Regions from separate parts of the Homo sapiens genome. Here region 2 is linked to region 1. The links come from fine-mapping of genetic effects on plasma protein levels. Region 1 holds a variant in brackets. A gene starts in the other region. All regions are shown on their reverse strands.

Region 1 (5,373 bases):
AGATAACTCATGAGGAATGATTTCTTTTCACTCTGGTCAGCTTGGGAGCGTCCTGACAGAGTGTCCTGTCACTGCAGCCCCCAAAGGGCTGCCCTCTGCCTTCTCCTGATGGTCCCGGCCCCAGCCTTGCCCCTTCAGTGCCATTGTTGTTTGCACCTGCAGGCCATGCACTTGGTGTACCGAGCCCTGGAGAAGGAGCCCGTGCCCTCCGCCCTGCCCCCGTCCCTCATCCCACCCTCCAAGAGAAAGAAGACTGTGTTCCCTGGCGCCGTCCCCGTCCTGCCTGCCAGCCCCCCACCAAAAGACAGCCTCCGCTCCACGCCGTCCCACGGCAGCGTCAGCAGCCTCAACAGCACAGGGAGCCTGTCCCCCAAGCACAGCCTCAAGCAAACACAGGTACGGAGCCCTCAGCGGGCACAGCCCCCTCTCAGAGCACAGTAGGATGTTTCTCGGGAGTTCTTAACATGCAACCCCAGAACGGTCAAGCTTGTGATGAAATGTCTTTAAAAAATGCTTGTGGCCAGGTGCGGTGGCTCACGCCTGTAATCCCAGCACTTTGGGAGGCCGAGGTGGGCAGATCTCAAGGTTAGGAGATCAAGACCATCCTGGCCAACATGGTGAAACCCCGTCTCTACTAAAAATACAAAAAAATTAGCTGGGTGTGGTGGTGCGCACCTGTAATCCCAGCCACTCGGGAGGCTGAGGCAGGAGAATTGCTTGAACCTGGGAGACGGAGGTTGCAGTGAGCTGAGAGCGCGCCACTGCACTCCAGCCTGGGCAACAAGAGCGAAACTCTATCTCAAAAAAAAAAAGTATTCATTTATCTCATTATTTCAACATGGTCTCCCCTATGTTACTCAGGCTGGTCTTGAACTCCTTGGCTCAAGTGATCCTCCTGCCTCGGCCTCCCAAAGTGCTGGGATTACAGGTGTGAGCCACCGTGCCCAGCCTGTGTCTGCAGAGCTCTTGCCAAGAGTTTTGAAAGTCAGGTTAGGGGAGGTACTTTACTGGCAACGAAGCTAGTGGGGCCAAACTCACTGGTAGGCACAGGTCACCCAGCGTCATAACCCACCTCTCTAGTGATCTTCTGGTGGTTCTCTCAAGACCCTCTGACTAGACCGATTTTACCAGTGGCCCCTGGTGGGGTGGGGTGGGAGGGTATAGCTCCTGCCCCCACGACGGCATTGGTAGGATCACAGTCATGAAAACGAGCATTTCTGGGGGCCTACAGTCCACATGCTCCCCCTACTCCAACTTCCTCATCTCCAGGCCAGCAATGCTCTTGTCTGGGCCTCCCAAGGGCCACCCGATTTTGCCCTCATGCCAGGTTTGAGTGAAGCCACTTCCAGCCACCAGGGTCTGATATCCTTCCTTTGGGACCTGTGGCTGCTGAGCCGGCCTTAAAGCCCAGCTGTCACTGGGAGAGCCAGCTCCACGGCAAGGCTGCCCCGTGTTGGGTTTATAGTCAATTTGGCATCAGAATCTTGCTGCTAACATACTCTGAGGCTCCAGAAATCAGGCAGTGAGTTCCTTTTGTTTGCCCAGCAAGTATTATTAGGACTCTTGTCATCCCAGAGCTATAATTTCATACGTAATTTCTTCTTGGGACCCGTGGGACACAGAACCCCCCTTGTTTCTGTGTCCCGCCACAGCTCAGCTTGTCTGACTCCTGTTACCTCTTTGTGATCCCTGGCTTCTGAGGTTAGCTTGCTGTAGCTCCGTGACTTAAAAGGCAGCAAGCCCATTTCTCATTAGAATTCCTTTATTGGCATCTTTACGTCCACCAGACTTGAGAAGGCTCACAAAATTTACACAGTACAATGCCACAAGTAAAAATCAGGTTGCTCTTGCCATCTGAACTCTCATCATTTGAATTAGATCCATAGATTTTTTTTTTTTAAATATATAAGAGACAGGATCTTGCTCTGCTGCCCTGGCTGGAGTGCAGTGGTGCAATCACGGCTCATTGCTATCTCAACCTCCTGGGCTCAAGTGATCCTTCCACCTCAGCCTCCCTAGTAGCTGGAATAGGTGGATGCCACCACACCTAGCTAATTTTATTTATTTATTTATTTTGTAGAGATGGGGTCTTGCTGTGTTATGCTGGCTGGTCTTGAACTCCTGGGCTTGAGGGATCCTCCTGCCTTGGCCTCCCAAAGTGCTGAGATTACAGGCATGAGCACTGTGCCTGGCCTAGCTCCATGGATTTTGATAAATTGTTTGATCAAGTCCTTGCTGTACTTCATCACACATACTTGCTACGTGAAACCCCTGAACTAAGCTGATCTGGGTCACATGGTATCCCTTGTTTCCCAAGCTTGCTTTCTGATTTCCCTGAGTTGGTATCAGGAGCCTGTTAGATTTGGACATCACAGGAGACTCGTTCATGAAGAGTAAACGAGTTTAACCATTGTTTCCCAGTCTTGACCATGAGTCCCTTCTCCTCAATCCTATGGACATCTTCGGGTTGTCAACACTGTGAGAACTCTTTGAGAAATCCCCCCCCCCTTTTTTTTTCCCCGAGACGGAGTCTTGCTCTGTCGCCCAGGCTGGAGTGCAGTGGCACAATCTCAGCTCCCTGCAACTTCTGCCTCCCAGGTTCAAGCAATTCTCCTGCCTCAGCCTCCTGAGTAGCTGGGATCACAGGTGCCTACCACCACACCTGGCTAATTTTTCGTGTTTTTAGTAGAGAGGGGGTTTCACCATGTTGGCCAATCTGGTCTCAAACTCCTGGCCTCAGGTGATCCACCCACCTCAGCCTCCCAAAGTGCTGGGATTATAGGTGTGAGCCACTGCACCCAGCCTAAGAAATCCTTTCATAACTGAGAGGAATGACTTTGAGTGGCAGTTTCAGGCATCATGGCGTTCATTGAAGGTGAGGAGTGGAGTGGCTTTTCTGTACAGTTGCTGCGTGGAGAAGGAACAATCGATCCCTCCAGCCACATTTGCCTGTCCTTTTTCTCTCCACTCCCTCATCATCTAGATAATTCAATCAGGTGTTTATTCTCATTGCTATTATGAGATTGTTTAAAAGGAGTGATTTGTGTAAATATTTAAAAAAAAA[G/AG]GGAAGAGGAAAAGCACGTCTAGAGTTCAGGACACAGATGCCGTGAACTGTGGCGTGGTGGGTGTATTGAAGGCCCGCGGTAATGCAGGTGGAGTAGGCCACGGAAGGGGCCTGCCCCTGAGTGCCTGAGGGGCCTCAATGCCTCTGAACCAGGAGGTGACCGGGCCCTGGTTGACCCATGATGGCGTTTGCCTCTCTCAAGTTAACTGTGAGCTGGTGGCGAGAGGGGTCGCACGTGCAGCGGGTGACCCAGCCCCAGGGCTGTGAACTTTGAGCTGCACTGGGCTCGTGGCTCCATCTGCCCTGGTGGGGTTGGGGCTGCATGAATGTTGGTGGGGCCTCGTGGGTGGTGGCCCTCTTGGATGGTGGTGTCTCATTTGTTACCTGTCAGTGACGTGTGTGTACTCACACCTTGGGGGTATCTTTGTTGTCTCAGGAGTGGGGCAGGGACATAGAAGGGTGGTCTTCAGAGTCCTGGGACAGGACACTTTGGCTGCCTGTAGGGCAGCCTTTGCGGGCTGAGGAGTGGGAGGACCAGGGAGGCTGGCATGTGGCCGGGCCGGTTCTCCAGGGACGGTCCTTCCAAGTGGGTGCTCGGGAGGGTCTTTCCTGGCATGCTTGAACCCATCCCCTGAAGATCACAGCCTCCCTCACACCCTGGGTGGCAGGGTGGATGGACAAGGAGAGCGGGTGATGGGGTGGAGAGAGGTGCAGACTGGCATCTGGGTGAGCTTCACAGAGCCAGCCTCAACCTGTCTCAGCCTCAGTTTTGCCAGTTACAGAACAAGGATCACATCTGCCCTCTTGGCTCATGGAAGTGAGGAGAGTTTGATGCCAAATGTGCATGGAAGTGCTTTAATCGCCCCATCATCAAAAAGCATGTGTCTGGGGGTCATAAAAAGCTTCCAGATTAACTGTTTTGCCAAAAACTGTTTCAGCCAACAGTGAACTGGGTGGTGCCCGTGGCAGACAAGATGCGATTTGATGAGATATTCCTGAAGACCGACCTGGACCTGGATGGCTACGTGAGTGGCCAGGAGGTGAAGGAGATCTTCATGCACTCGGGCCTCACCCAGAACCTTCTAGCACACATATGGTAAGGCCGGACAGGTGGCAGTTGTGGCTGTGGGTGGCTCCAGGGGGCCTGTGGGTGAAGACTGTGGAGGGTGGTGGTCAGGGGGCCCCCTCCAGCCTGTCACAGGCTTCCGCTGTGTCTGGCGTCCTTTATTCTCCCTGGCCTGACAGAGGCTGAGCAAGGTGCACGTGCCAAGGCTCGAAGCCCGCGCTCCGTGACGGTCAGTTCACTGTCTTTCAGTAGGAAGGGCCTCTGGTCCGTCTTAAGTGCTCCCAGGCCATTTGCTTACACAGCTGGGCCCTATTCTTGCTGGCTGTGATGCTGGCTCTAACAGGAGGCCTGGACTTTGTCACAGCCGCCTCCGGGAGGTGCGGGCAGCAGGGCCTTGGAGCCTCTAGCAGAGTGGCCTGGCAGGGTGAGGGCGGGGGCAGGAGGCCCTGCTCTGGAAAGGCCAGTGCTTTGGCTCCTGGCGGGAGGGTGAGCACAAGGAGACCCTGTCAGTGCCTCAGAGCCCAGTCGAGGAGTCGGCCTCAACCCCTCTTTCCCCCAGGGCTGGACACAGCCGACTTCATAGGGCTGGGGCACTCCTCTTGCCACTGGCCAGGGCTGAAGTCACTTTTGAGCTTGTTGCTCAGAGCCTTGTGGCCTTAGAGAAGGCTTCACTTGGGAGCTATCAAAAGGAAAGAATTGCTGGATAATTCTCGAGAGGCAAATACCTCCAAGTAGAGCAGTGAAATTCAGGATGTTACTTAGTGGCTTGGGGGAAATGACTGTCCTTAGTGGTAATTCACAGATGACCACACTGTGAGGTGGGAGCCTGAGAACTAGCTGTCGCAGAGTCATCACCCAAATGGCCAAGCCGCCTCCAACTGGCTAGGGACAGTGGGTCTCAGCTGCCTCAGATCCAGTGTCCCTTTTAGAAACCAACAAAACACAGTGTCCCCTTTATGACTCTGAAACCAACACACATACAGTTCCTGGTTAGCGCCCTGACACCCTGACTGTCATGTCTAGGGGTCAGTAGAGGGAAAGTAATTTATAATGCATGCTGCAATTGACACATGATGTAATGACATGGAAATGACACAGGAAATCACTAATCCACCTGGATCAAAAGAAGGAACTCAGAGGTCATTCCATGCGGGCAGCAAAGGGGAAGGAAAGGATGATCAGGCTCTTGAATAACCATGAGAAAAGAAGTCTAGATGTGTCTGCGAGTGGCTGGGGCGGGGCA
Region 2 (5,353 bases), not on the chromosome of region 1:
AAACTCCAGTTCCCAGAGCCGAATGGCTTTCCCTGAACCAGTATGAGGCCACAGGCTCGGAACACATGCCTGGAGATCAAGGCAGAGAGGAGAGCACTCCCTGCCCAGAGTCTCGCGACATGTACCCAGTCCTCCAAACCAGCTCGATGCCCCCTCCTGACTGGGTCTTCCTGGGTCTCCTCCATCACAAAATGAAAGCACTTGGCTCTCTGGCTGCAAGGTGGACCCAGACTCCCCTGGCCCGAATTCTGTTTCCATACCAGTCTTCCCAAATCCCAAAATGTGAGAGCTCGATGGGGTCAGGATCTCTTGCATCTCCAGGCCCCTGCCCCGCTCTGGCCAGCTTGGACCCTGCACTCAACAGGGGCCAGCAAGTATCTGGGGAGCACAGTCTAGTGCCCCAAACCTTCTGGCCATCTGATTCCCTGGCCCAGGTGGCCAGGTGCCTTGACACTTGGGGGCAGCTTGAGACGTGGGGGTGGCCTTCATGCTCGCTTATGCCCTAGACTACCCCAGCTGGTTGTGCTGAGGCCATCAGCGCCTGGTTGTCCAGAACTCTCCCTGGCTTCCCTGAGTCCTGTTTCGGGAGGTGCTCTCCTGTGATTGGCCTACGCCTGCTGGACCCCAAGCCTCAGCTTTGGCGTTGAAAGTACCACCATCAGTGGTCCTGCCTCTCTGGAAGGTGAACGGTTCCTTCTTAAGAGTTGGCAAGAAATAGGAAATGGGGGAGTTCCTGAGCTTAAGGATGGGAGAGGCACCTCCCTCCTCACACCCTAGGGACCCATTGGTAAGGCACAAAGCATGCTTCCCACATTCTGTCACTCCAGGAGGCTTCCAGGCACAGCCCCAGCCCCTCGAGGGGCTCCTGTGTCCTCTCCTAGCCCCAGATGCTGGACCTCCCTGGTACCTGAGTGTAGTCTTGGCTAAAAGATCCTAGAAAAGTGACCACAAGGAAACAACCAGAAAGGGGACTGAGAGGGCCGGACCCGGCTCCTCCAGCACCAGTGGCAGGAGATGAGGGAAGGGGGCCTACCTGAGAGGGCTGCCGTCAGCAATCCAGTGATCCCGAAGAAGAGCCACATGTCTGGAGCTGTCTCTGGCTGCTACGCGTGGCTGCCTGTGGGAAGCACCATCTTGGGGCCGGGAGGTGGACACGGCCGTTGTGCGCCCCTGGCGCAGGTCTGCTCTACCCTTTGCTGTTCTTGTTCCTGTGTCTCTCTCTGCTCTCTCCTCTCCGACACGCATGCGATCAAACCCAACCTGTGAGTGTCTCACGCCTGCTTGTTCTGCTTGTGGTTTTGGTCTGCAGGAAGCTGGGCTGCTGTTACAGGGGCTGGTGGGGAGAGCCCCAGCTGCCTGTGCTGGGAGCCCACCCATCCAGGCTGCACCCCAAGAGTCACGGAGCCAGACACACGCATGCACACGCATCCATGCAGACACACTTCCCCGAGGGTCTTCTAAGAAGAAGGGAAGTGGAAGAGCCATGCCTCATTTCTGGTGGCCCAGAAGAAAAAATTGATAATGTAGTAGCTGCTCAATCAGTACATATTGGAAGAGGGAGTGAATGACCCATTGCCTGTCCCGGTCCGTGTAATTTGGCTCTCTTGGATTAAATCCTGAGTTTTATCTTAACCTTAGGTGCAATGGTGGTTGGGAAGGAGGGTGTGGTCTTGATGCACTTTTGGAGATAAGAGCCTAAGTCTCCCCTCAGAGAAATATAAATTGGGAAGGGCCTGAGAGATGGCCATCCCACAAGTCCTTCTACAGGGAAGGGTGCCAAGGCCTTGTGGGAGCCGCCCCGTCAGATGGCACAGTGGGGCCAGCTATCCCATCTCCAGGTACCAGACTGGGCATGCCTCCGTGGGAGTCAGGCATGGGAGCTGGGTCTACAAGGCTGAGCAGGATTTTGACAAACAGCAATCATGGGAGGCCTCTGGGCCAGAAGGAATAGCAGGAGCAAAGGGCTGAAGGAAGGAAGCCCAGGGCTGCCTGAGAAACCCCGAGTTGCCCCATTGCACTGCAGCAGACTGACGCTATAGGAAGAAGGCAGGGGCCAAGCGTGTTTAATTCCCATGGTACTCCCTGTGGAGCATATGGTAGGAGGTGAATAAATGTTTATTGAATGAGAAAAGGAATAGATAATTTGGTTGTCCAAGCAGGGCCCTGGAAGTGGTCAAATCCAGAAGGGGTTTGGTTCCAAATCCTGGCCCTGCCTCAATTGGTCCCATCCCAGGTCCACCTCTCCTGGCCCTCCACTTCCTGCATCCTTGCTTGTCTTCATTTCCCCAACATGTGGAATGAGGAGCGGTCCTCCTCCATTGGGTTCGGTCCTAAATGTGGGTGTATGCATTTGATGCGGCAAGTATTAGAGCCACGGGGAACCAGGCGCCCCCAGAGTGAGACTCCTCCCAGTCCTGCCCCAGCGCCGGCACCTGCTGCCGCTGCCCTCTGGTGGAAGTCACTGGCAGCACAGGTTTGCATGGGTGCCTCGAGCTCCCAGATGCAATTCCATTCATTTACACAGTCTTGGTGTGCAGAACTCTGGACAGGACTCTGTGGAAGTGAAAGAGAGGAAACCATATTCCTGCCCTCAAGGAGGATGAAGTTCACACACACACAAGTGACCAAACCACAGGCCAAGGTAGGACACACATAATGTGAGGTCTCCTGGTCCTAAGAGGAACCCGTTTGAAATGGGCCGGGAAGGATGGCTAGACTCCATTTCTGACAATATGGTAGACAGCAGATGCTGAAGAATTCTCCTAATACAAAACACCACAAAAATATTGTAAACCATCTTTTAAAATGTGTAGCTGAGGTGGTGAGAAATGAAGAAAATCATCAGAGATCAAAAACGACAATAAGCCTGGGCAACATGGTGAAACCCTCTCTCTGCAAAAGGTGCAAAAAATTAGCCAGGTTTGGTGGCACACACCTGCGGTCTCAGCTACTCAGGAGGCTGAGGTGGGAGGATCGCTTGAGCCCAGGAGGTCAAGGCTTTAATAAGCCAAGATTGCACTGCTGTACTCCAGCCTGGGCAACAGAGTGAGACCTTGTATATGTTAATATATAAAGACAACAAAAATCCAAAGAGATCACAGCCAGCAGAGAAGTATCTGTTGATCCAGTTGACCAAGAGCTTCAGTCTTATGAACATGGACAAAAGTTAAAGCTGAGAAACAAAATCGAAGTGAAAAACAAAATCCAAAATTTCTGCCTTAAACAAAGAGCACTGAAATACAACATCCACAGTGGAGAACTCGGAGAGAAAAATTCCTTAAAGCGAGCTGACACAGAGCTTGCCCAACTCAGTATGGACTCTGAGTGGGAGAAAAATAAATGTCAACCCTGAATGCCCCTCACCACAAGTCTACCCACTAATAGGCCTGGAGGTGAAACTCATGGTGACTTTGTGGCAAAAACAACCACACAAAAAACAAACAAACAAAAAGATAAGATAAGAATTTAAAGTAAGGTAAATAATAGCTCCTTAGGCACGTGGCAGAAACAAATGATAAAAATTGTCTCTGGAGTAACTCATCCTATATTCATGACTCAAAGAAATCCCACAGAAAAACTCCCATGGAACATGAGTTCACATGTTTGTAAAACAGAAAAATCATAAAACACAGGACACAAGGTGCTTTAGGTGAGAGGAGCACCAAGCAATAAACTAAAAATGCAGACCTTCGAACACATCTCAGATGTTGGAATTGCAGTATATATAATATAAAATAAGGATGTTTCATATGCTTCAAGAATTAAAAGTTGGTAATTGAAAGTATAGATAAGGAACAAGAGACTATTTAAAGTGACCAGGAAGATTGAGGGAAAAAAAGCAAGCAGTTATGTAAAAACATAATTTTTGAAAATAGAAGCCCAGTGTACAGATTAAACAGTAGATTAAGGCTCAGCACTTTGGGAAGCTAAGGCAGTCTGATGGCTTGAGGCCAGGAGTTCAAGACTAGCCTGGCTAACACAGTGAAACCCTGTCTCTATTAAAAATACAAAAATTAGCCAGGTGAGGTGGCACATGCCTGTAGTCCCAGCTACTCAGGAGGCTGTAGCACAAGAATTGCTTGAACCCAGGAGGCAGAGATTGCAGTGAGTCGAGATTGTGCCACTGCACTCCGGCCTGGGTGAGAGTGAGACTCTGTCTCAAAAATAAATAAATAAATACATACATAAAAATAAACAGCAGATTAATATGGCTGAAGAGACAACTACTGGGGTGAACAATAGATTTGAAGAATTTACCCAGGATGGAGCACAGGAGGACAAAGTGGTGGAAAATATGAAAGAGGCTAAGAGACATAGACAAGGAACAAGGATTTAAATATGTCTAATTAGAGTTCTAGAAGAAAATGGAAAATTTCTAGACTTGATGAAAGACACAATCCTCAGATTCTGGAAGCTCCCCCAACCCAAGCATGATAAATAAAAAGAAATCTACACCAAACATTTTTGGTAGCAAAACTGCTGATCACTAGACAGAAGATGGATGAATGATGAAGTAGATGGGCAGCTAATATGTCAATACCAATAACTAAAGCCAGAAGGCGATGGAACAACATCTCAAAGTACTAATAAAAAAATAACTGTCAACCTTGACTATCTTTCAAGTATAAGGTTTAAAAGACACATTTTCAGATGAAAATTGAGAGCATTTATAGCTAACAGACTCTCACCTAAGGGAATTCTAAAGGATGTTCTTCAAAAACAAGAAAAATAATCTCAGAAAAAAAAGTCTAAGATTCAAGTAAGAATGGTGAGCAAAGAAATATGTAAACACAGAAGTGGATTTAATAAGCACTGATAGCATAAAATAATTACAAAAATGTCCACTTTGTGGAGTTAGAAAAAAATGAAATAGGCTGGACATGGTGGCTCATGCCTGTAATCCCAGCACTTTGGGAGGCTGAGGTGGTTGGATCACTTGAGGTCATGAGTTTGAGAACAGCTTGGCCAAAACGGCTAAACCCCATCTCTACTAAAAATACAAAAATTAGCCAGGCGTGGTGGCTCGCATCTGTAGTCCCAGCTATGCAGGAGGCTGAGGCAGGAGAATCACTTGAAACTGGGAGGTGGAGGTTGCAGCGAGCCAAGACTGCACCACTGCACTCCAGCCTGGGCGACAGAGCGAGACTCTGTCTCAAAAAAAAAAAGAAAAAAAAATTAAAAAAGAAAAAAAAAATGAGATAAAACTAAAGAACCATAAAACAATAACAAATTGGTGAGGAGTGATCAGAGTGGGAAAGGTCTATTATTTGGTGGGAGGGCAAAATATTGACTAGCATTTGACCTTGTTCAATTAAACATGCATGTTAAACTAGTTGAACAATAAAATGGAACT

Which allele goes with the higher level. Alleles are on the strand shown, and positions count from the first base shown. The strength of an association depends on the size of the effect and on how common the allele is.
As copies of G replace AG in region 1, the plasma level of the protein whose gene starts at base 1,268 in region 2 goes down (weak association).

The links. A credible set is the group of variants that fine-mapping cannot tell apart. PIP is the posterior inclusion probability: the model's chance that the variant is causal. The UK Biobank Pharma Proteomics Project read protein levels with antibody pairs (Olink). The fine-mapping took linkage between variants from a reference panel, not from the people measured, so its PIPs are less certain.
Region 2: CD6 starts here. The variant in region 1 is the best candidate, but not a certain one, in a credible set for the plasma level of the CD6 protein (UK Biobank, PIP 0.52).

What each region holds. Positions count from the first base shown.
Region 1 is chr19:16,420,106-16,425,478 of GRCh38, reverse strand. It overlaps EPS15L1 (epidermal growth factor receptor pathway substrate 15 like 1), which reads left to right. Exons shown (of 24, transcript NM_001258374.3): 9 at 163-396; 10 at 4,003-4,160. Among named protein-coding and RNA genes, the nearest start is that of EPS15L1, 49 kb to the left of the region's middle. RefSeq lists enhancers at 3,966-4,569, 4,570-5,173. The variant G/AG (reference allele first, on the strand shown) is at 3,065.
Region 2 is chr11:60,967,595-60,972,947 of GRCh38, reverse strand. It overlaps CD6 (CD6 molecule), which reads right to left and starts at 1,268. Exons shown (of 13, transcript NM_006725.5): 1 at 1,034-1,268. The coding sequence starts at 1,082.